Linked DNA regions of Homo sapiens. The protein of the gene in region 1 interacts with the protein of each later gene in a pairwise test. Each region holds a gene or a part of one and is shown on either strand. Other genes may lie near its edges.

Region 1 (3,749 bases):
TTTTACCATGTTGGCCAGGCTGGTCTCGAACTCCTGCCCTCAGGTGATTCACCTGCCTTGGCCTCCCAAAGTGCTCGGATTACAGGCGTGAGCCACCGCACCTGGCCAAGATTTAATTTTTAAGATTAAAAAATTGGATAGATTAAGAGTTTTGGGGCAGAAAAGAAAAGAAGCATGTGATGGTTGTTTGTCAATGAAACTTCTGAGAAACAAGAAAGGAGGACTGCCTATGATTGTATCTAAATGCTACAACAAATTTGACTGACAAGAGGGGCTTAGGAGACCCCGCACAGAAGAGGTTTTAATGAAAAGGAAGTGAAACACCAAGCTCACATAAATTTTTAATAAACTTTTTTGTGTCTATGTCATATTTCATAATGTTTTTCCTAAATGCTTAACCTAGGAAACACATGTGTGCACACCCATGCCAAACACACAAATGAATTTAACAGTGTGGTTTATGAAATGAAAGCAATAATAGTTTGACTCTTCAGAACCTCTTCATTGTGGCCTATGTCAAGCTCTCTAATCTTTTCTCCTCAATGGTAGGCCATGGTTAAGGGACAGATGATAAAGTACAAGGTTTTCAATTGCTAACTGCCAAATTTTCATAGGTTATAGTATTACTCAAAAAGTTGTTTTGTCTCATTTCTTCAAATTTTGAAATAACTTGCTTTGCTGACTCATCTGACTATATTTTTAATGAGGACTGGCTTTATTAGCACTTTTAGAAAAAAAGCTCTGCACTCCACACTGAAAGTCAAATCAAATAGATAGTTAATTATTTGTAGCGTGGAGTAATGTATGCTCAGTCTCTCCTCACAACGGAGCCAAAGGTCACAAACATTTACAGAAAACCTACTTATGTCCCAGGTACTCTGCTAGGTACTTTCCTAACTTGTCTAAAGTCACAGCATAGGCTGGGTATGGTGGCTCATGCCTGTATTCCAGCACTTTGACAGGACGAGGCGGGCAGATCACCTGAGCCCAGGAGTTCGAGACCAGCCTGGGCAACATGACAAAACCCTACCTCTACAAAAATACAAAAATTAGCTGGGTGTGGTGGTGTGTGCCTGTAGTCCCAGCTGCTCGGGAGGCTGAGGCAGGAGGATCACTTGAGCCCAGGAGGTAGGGTTTGCAGTGAGCCGAGATTGTGCCACTGCACTCCAGCCTGGGCCACAGAGCGAGACCCTGTCTCAAAAAAAAAAAAAAAAAAAAAGTCACAACAGATAAGTCATAGAGCTGGGATTCAAATTCAGGTCTGTCTGAATATAGAGTATTTTCTGCTACATTATCAGTTACTGAGGGTAATTGAAAAATTTAACACTTATCATGGACCAGGCACTATGTTAAAACATTATCTCATTAATCTTTACAATGATCCTATTTAAAAATCTGTAGCTGTAAAAGAATTTTATACAACATTTATACAAAAATCATCAAGATTCTTCATGGCAAGTTAAAATGTTTTTAAATAGTTTGAGGTCATCTTGATAGTCATTCCACTACCCATTTCTCAGTCTCTTCAGCAAAATTTCCTTTCACTTATAGCTAGCTACCTGACCATCCTACACTAAATAAGCAGATAATTTAATCTTCCAACTTCTTGAATTTGTGTGTTCTTTTATGTACATATGTTGGCTGACTGGAACAGAAGGAGGCAGGGGGTATATACGAGCAAGTATGGTTTATTACGGACAAATGGTAGAAAAATGTTACTAATATCCATAGATAAGTTCCTTAAGTCATGTAGAGAGACTGTTATTAAAAGTTTGCTGCATTTTTCTATTGAATCAAGAACTAGCTACCAGTTACAGTGCCTTCTAAACACACAGTTAGCTTTGCTTTATCAATAACCAAATAATAAACTAGGTCCCAATGGTTTTGTCCACATCTAGATTGTTCAGGTGATCAGGAACTCTTTTATTTGTGTGCTTTAGCTTTTAGTTCTTGGTTATATCTATAAAGAAAACAGAAAGAAAAATAATCATCAATAATAATAGACAAATTTATGGTAAGGAGAGAATGGGAAGCATACTCCATTTCTTCTTTCTTGGTGGTCAAGTAGCTATACAGTTGTAAACAGAATCTTCCCGGAGGGCTTACAGGTAGAAACAGGCAGAAAGGAAAGGATTCAAAGAGTTCATTTGCATCTGGATTTTGTTTCAGATAATAAGAGCACAACTGCCAAAAACTTTTTTTTTTTTTTTTTGAGATGGAGTCTCACTCTGTCGCCCAGGCTGGAGTGTAGTGGTGTGATCTCGGCTCGCTGCAAGCTCTGCCTCCCGGGTTCACGCCATTCTCCTGCCTCAGCCCCCCGAGTAGCTGGGACTACAGGCGCCCGCCACCACTTCTGGCTAATTTTTTGTATTTTTAGTAGAGATGGTGTTTCACCGTGTTAGCCAGGATGGTCTCGATCTCCTGACCTTGTGGTCTGCCTGCCTCGGCCTCCCAAAGTGCTGGGATTACAGGAGTGAGCCACCATGCCCGGCCTGCCAAAAACTTTTAACAGCTTAGCTGACATATAGTTTCCTGTGCAAAAGTATTATTTTAATAAAAATATTCTCATTCTGGAATTCTACAAGAACGTGACAAACTTGTGAACATATGTATAAAATTTAGTAAAATGTGGTCACCTAGAATTTTAAAATTTATACTCGCAAAGCACCTTTCCTAAGAATAAGATCAACAGGTAAAGTAAAATATACTAAAGTAATCACTAAAGTAAAATATACTTCTAACCACTAAGGTAAAATATACTTCTGTGATGCAGGCAGGCTATTGGGTTAACAGCCTGTAAACACTTAAGTTCACAAACGCTAAGGACCATTTCCTCAATTCTCAATCCAAAGAAGTAACCACAGAGCCATAGTCTTTCCTTCCCTTCTACCATACCTTGGGCTTCATTTACTATTCCTCCTAGCTTATAATGGAATGGAGAGTAGTATAAAAGCATAAGAAGGAACTTATTCCATGAAGCCAACCATACCTCCTAGGTTTCTCAAAAGATCCTGATTTCAAATATTTGATCATAATGTCATTATCATAAATCACTGACAATATTAACTACTGAGTAAATAGTTTAAAAATTTCCAGTGCTCATGGAACACTTTCCAATGAAAGCAAAGACCTCACTCTACGTATCATTTCCAATACTACATAACAATACACTTAAGTTCCAATTTATTATATACAATTGAAAGTGATAAAAGGTTTACATAAGAAATTAATAAATCATAAACTGTATATGTTGTCTTAATAAAAGAGATTATGTGAGATGGTTAACCATCTAAATGATGCACAGTTAAATCTAAAAACTAGGTAACATACTGCTTAACTGATTTTAGTCAGTTAACTAGTTAACTGGTTAACTTATTTGTAAACCCCTAGACTTTTCTAGAAATGTTAAATTTCTACTTTAGATACTTCTTGTCTTAGCATTATATATGAATCTTTTAAAAAAATTAGTGCCATCTCCAGCCTGGGCAACAGAGCGAGACCCCGTCTCAAAAAAAAAAAAAATTAGTGCCATCTAAGTAGCTTTTGCAACAGTTTTAAAAATATCTCTGGTAGGCTTACCTCCAAATACGAAAAAGCTGAGAGGCTCCTGCTGCCCCCACAAAGAAATTAACAGCAAACAGACTCCAATTTTTTGGAATAATTACAAGTGAGTATCTTGACCAAATAAACCCTGTTGAAACAAAATGTTACTTTAAAAAGAATACATACTGCTTCAATAACTTCAGTGA
Region 2 (3,749 bases), on another chromosome or scaffold:
TAATTCTTTTTTCCTTTTCCCCATCCAACCCACTTCCAGAGTGTTGGCTTTTGGGTCTACTGCAGATGGTTGTTGTGAAAGACAAATGAACCAGGTCTCTGTGGTTCTTAACTAGAAGTCTGCTTCAGAATCACCTGTGTTAAAACAAATAAAGGCTAAACACAATTTAAAAAAAGGACACCCCTAAGTGCTACTCTAGGTGGACTGAATCAGAATGTGGAGCCTGATCAGAATATTCTCTCCCTCATCGTGCTCTGTGAACTGACCAGAGAGGACTCCTGTGTTGTTCTCTGGCAGTTTTCTGTCTGCCTAGCCACGTGGGAGCTAGTGGATAGGCAGACGGGAGCCTTGCTCCTGAGTCTTCTCAGCATCCAGCCCGGGGCTGATTGGGTTGAATGTGCATCTCCAAATGCATCAAATGGATTGTATCTTTGTATTTTTATTTTATTTTATTTTTAAGACAGGGTCTCATTCTGTCACCCAGGCTGGAGTGCAGTAGTATGATCTCAGCTCACTGCGGCCTTCACCTCCCAGCCTCAAGTGATCTTCCCCCTCAGCCTACTGAGTAGCTGGGACCACAGGCATGCACCACCAGCCTGGCTAATTTTTGTTTTATTTTTTCTAGAGACAGGGTCTCACTATGTTGCCCAGGCTTGTCTCAAACTCTTGGGCTCAAGCTATCCACCTGCCTAGACCTCTCAAAGTGCTAGGATTACAGGCGTGAACCCGGCCCTTTTTTCTTCTTTTAAAAACTAGGGACAGGGTCTTGCTCTTTCACCCAGGCTGGAGTGCAGTGGTGCAATCATAGTTTACTGCAGACTTGAACTCCCGGGCTAAAGTGATTCTCCTACTTTGGCCTCCCAAAGTGTTGGGATTACAGGCTTAAGCCACCATGCCTGGGCGAAATGTATTGTATCTTTAAGAAGTATCTAGCCTGCCATGTAATTTAGGGGATGTGTTTGAGCCATTTGATCCTTCACATGATGGATCTGGTGGTGGAGACGGGGGTTTCTAATGTACAACTGTCCCCTAATATATTAGGTTGGTGCAAAAGTAATGGCAGAATAATCCAATAATCCATCAGAAATTGGTTTTTGGACTTCAAGAAGATGTATACAACATCATTCTGAACTGACAGCCTCAGTTCAGAGCCCTCCTGAACCACAATGGCCTGTGAGGCACAAGACTCCGGCTCACTCATTCGGCCTGGTCCACTTACTTACTCTAGCGTCCATCCCTAGTCAGTGGCAGGGCTGTAGTTGGCTATGATCATGTATCAGTTGCTCATCCAGTGGACGTCCAATCAGTTAGTTGGCCATTCATTCATTCATTCATGCAGGCATCCAGTTATAAAGACATCCATTCACCCACTCAACAGAAATCTGCTGAGAGCCTACTACGTGCTGGGAACTATTTTCACATCGGAGACAAAACAGAGGGTGACATGAAGAGCACGGCCCACTTGGAGCCTACGGAGATGGCGTTGAGCGGTTTCGCAGGAGAGCTCCTGCCCCGGAGGATTAATGCCCAGCACCTGGCTCATCCTCCCCACACCCCTAGCTCTTCTCCCGCTTTGCTCCTTCCAGCTGGGGCTGAGCATGGGGTCCCAACCCCGCTGGTGAGAAGCTCGAGGTAGGGATGAAGCGGAGAATGGAAAAGGTGACTCGAAAACAAGGATATAGCGGGAACGTTGTAGGAAAGGTGGCGTGGAGAGGCGACCCTAGCGTGGCCGGGAGCGTGTTTCCAAGTTGCGGCGAGCATCCTCTTTGGGGGAGGGGCGGGAAAGGAAAGGAGGGGAGGGGGACGGACGCGGCGAGGCGAGGAGGGGGAGATCCAGCCTCTAGGCGCCGCAGCTCGGCCGTTCTGCCCGGGAGGCTGGGCTCTCAGGACGCCGGCGGCGGCCGCAGGGCTGGCGGCTGCTGGGCGCGGGGCGGCGCGGGGCGGCGCGGCGCGGCGGGGGCGCGCGGCAGGAGGGGCTGTGCGCGGCGCGGCCCCCGAGCGCACCGGGCCTGCCGAGGAGCGCGCGCCCGGCCGGGCTCGGCGCCGGTTTCCCGAACCTGGGCGGCCGTCGGGCAGCCCCCTCGTCCGACCATGGCGACTGACAGTGAGTGCGCTCCGGCCGCGGAGGCCAGGGGTGGGGGGAGGCCGCGGTGCCCAGGGTGGGAAGTTCGATTTCAGACGCTGCCTTTGTGCTGGCTCGCGGCAGCAGCGGCCGGGTCCCTCTCCGCTCCTCACCCTTGGCTGCCTGGCGGGGCTTGAAAGGGCAGGTGGCCCTGGCGGCGCGCCCCGCGAGGGATGTGGCAGAAGGGCGTGCGCCTGGCGCCGAGGCGGAGGGACCCTCGATGCCGTGTGGCAGCGGGGCCTGCCATCGCAGCCCTTCGCGGGCACTGCCCCCAGGCCCAGAGCCAGCCTTCAGCGAGCCGGGCAAACGAAGGCACTGCGCGTTTTTGGCGCTGTGAGTTCAAGGTTCGCCTCGAGTTCTGGGTCGGGTTTGTGCGTCTGCCTTTTGGGGATCAGGGTGGCTTGCATGGCTCGGCTGCCCGGTGGCCCACGGGCTGTATTCGCAGCGGGCAGCACAAGGCCGGCTGGAGACCGCATCTGGTTACCATGGTCAGTGGGTGGGAGGAGTGCCTGGAGACATCAGGTTGAAACTCTGAATGGAAGCGTTGGAAGGCGCTGGGTTGGCCTGCTTTTGGCATCTTGGCACCGCTGCTCTTATGGCTCAGTGCCTTTGGAAATTGGAATCCCGTCTGTGAAAACTGGTTAAGTTAGTTGCGTTTGAAGCCAGATACGTATTAGTGAAGCTTCAAAGGGAGTTCAGAGTAAAACCAAGTCACACCTGCGTACCTAGCATCCAAAGTCCCTAGCACAGGTGTGGCGCATGTTAGGGACTTCATTAGATGAGTGAATGGGGCTGGATGTGCTGGCTCAGGCCTGTAATCCCAGCACTTTGGGAGGCCGAGGCGGGAGGATCACTTGAGCCCAGGAGTGCGAGGCTGCTGTGAGCTATGACCCTGCCATTGCACTCCAGTCTGGGCCACAGAGGAAAAAAACAAAAATCAAATGGTGTGCTGGCTACAGAGGCCCTTTGGAAGGTATTTTTTTTTTTTTTTTTTTGAGAGGTGAGGAGGAAAAGAGATGGGAAAATGAGATGTCAAAATTTCTGCAATAATTTATTATTTTTCTTGTAAACAATCATCCCAGCCAAGAACACAGCTTTAGGATAGTGTGGAGAGCTTGAGTTTTTGTAGTCAAACAGACCTGTATTTTATCTCTCTAGAATTCCCTAGCAGTGGGACCATGGCACTGTCCTCAGTTTCTCTAAATTAGGACAAGGCTGTCATTCATAGCTCTTACAAGCGATGGGCACACAGGTGGCCTTCAGTAAATGGTGGTTGTCCTCTCCCTGCTGTTTTGCCATCATCTGATATGTGTGGGGATACCAACATGCTTTCCTCCTTTTTAAAGAGAAAAATGTTGATCAGGTGTTTCCAGTAAAATCAGCTAATTTGGGCCAAATTTCCCTTTCCTCAGCTCTGTTCATTTATACAAAGTGTGATTCCATTCGTGTGTGTGTGTGTTTAGAAAAAAAATTATGGTTGAAGCTTTACTTAACAAAGTAAGACTCAACAAAGAAGGAGATCATGAGATTTGGCCTTATTGTGTTATTAATGAAAAACAAAGGCAAAGGGGTTCAAAGTATCTACCAGCAACTGTGCATCACACACATGCAGTGAGACACTGTTCTG

The links.
Region 2: the proteins of MPC2 (region 1) and SYT16 interact in binary tests that used the Homo sapiens proteins (3 or more experiments, as listed by UniProt).

Annotation. Positions count from the first base shown.
Region 1 is NC_000001.11:167,916,400-167,920,148, forward strand, and holds the end of MPC2 (mitochondrial pyruvate carrier 2), read right to left. Parts: intron 3,692-3,749; coding exon 3,580-3,691; intron 1,961-3,579; coding exon 1,924-1,960; 3' UTR 276-1,923; downstream 1-275. UniProt on the Homo sapiens protein: Mediates the uptake of pyruvate into mitochondria.
Region 2 is NC_000014.9:61,810,707-61,814,455, forward strand, and holds the start of SYT16 (synaptotagmin-16), read left to right. Parts: upstream 1-1,996; 5' UTR 1,997-2,091; coding exon of another isoform or gene 2,092-2,104; intron 2,105-3,749. UniProt on the Homo sapiens protein: May be involved in the trafficking and exocytosis of secretory vesicles in non-neuronal tissues. Is Ca(2+)-independent.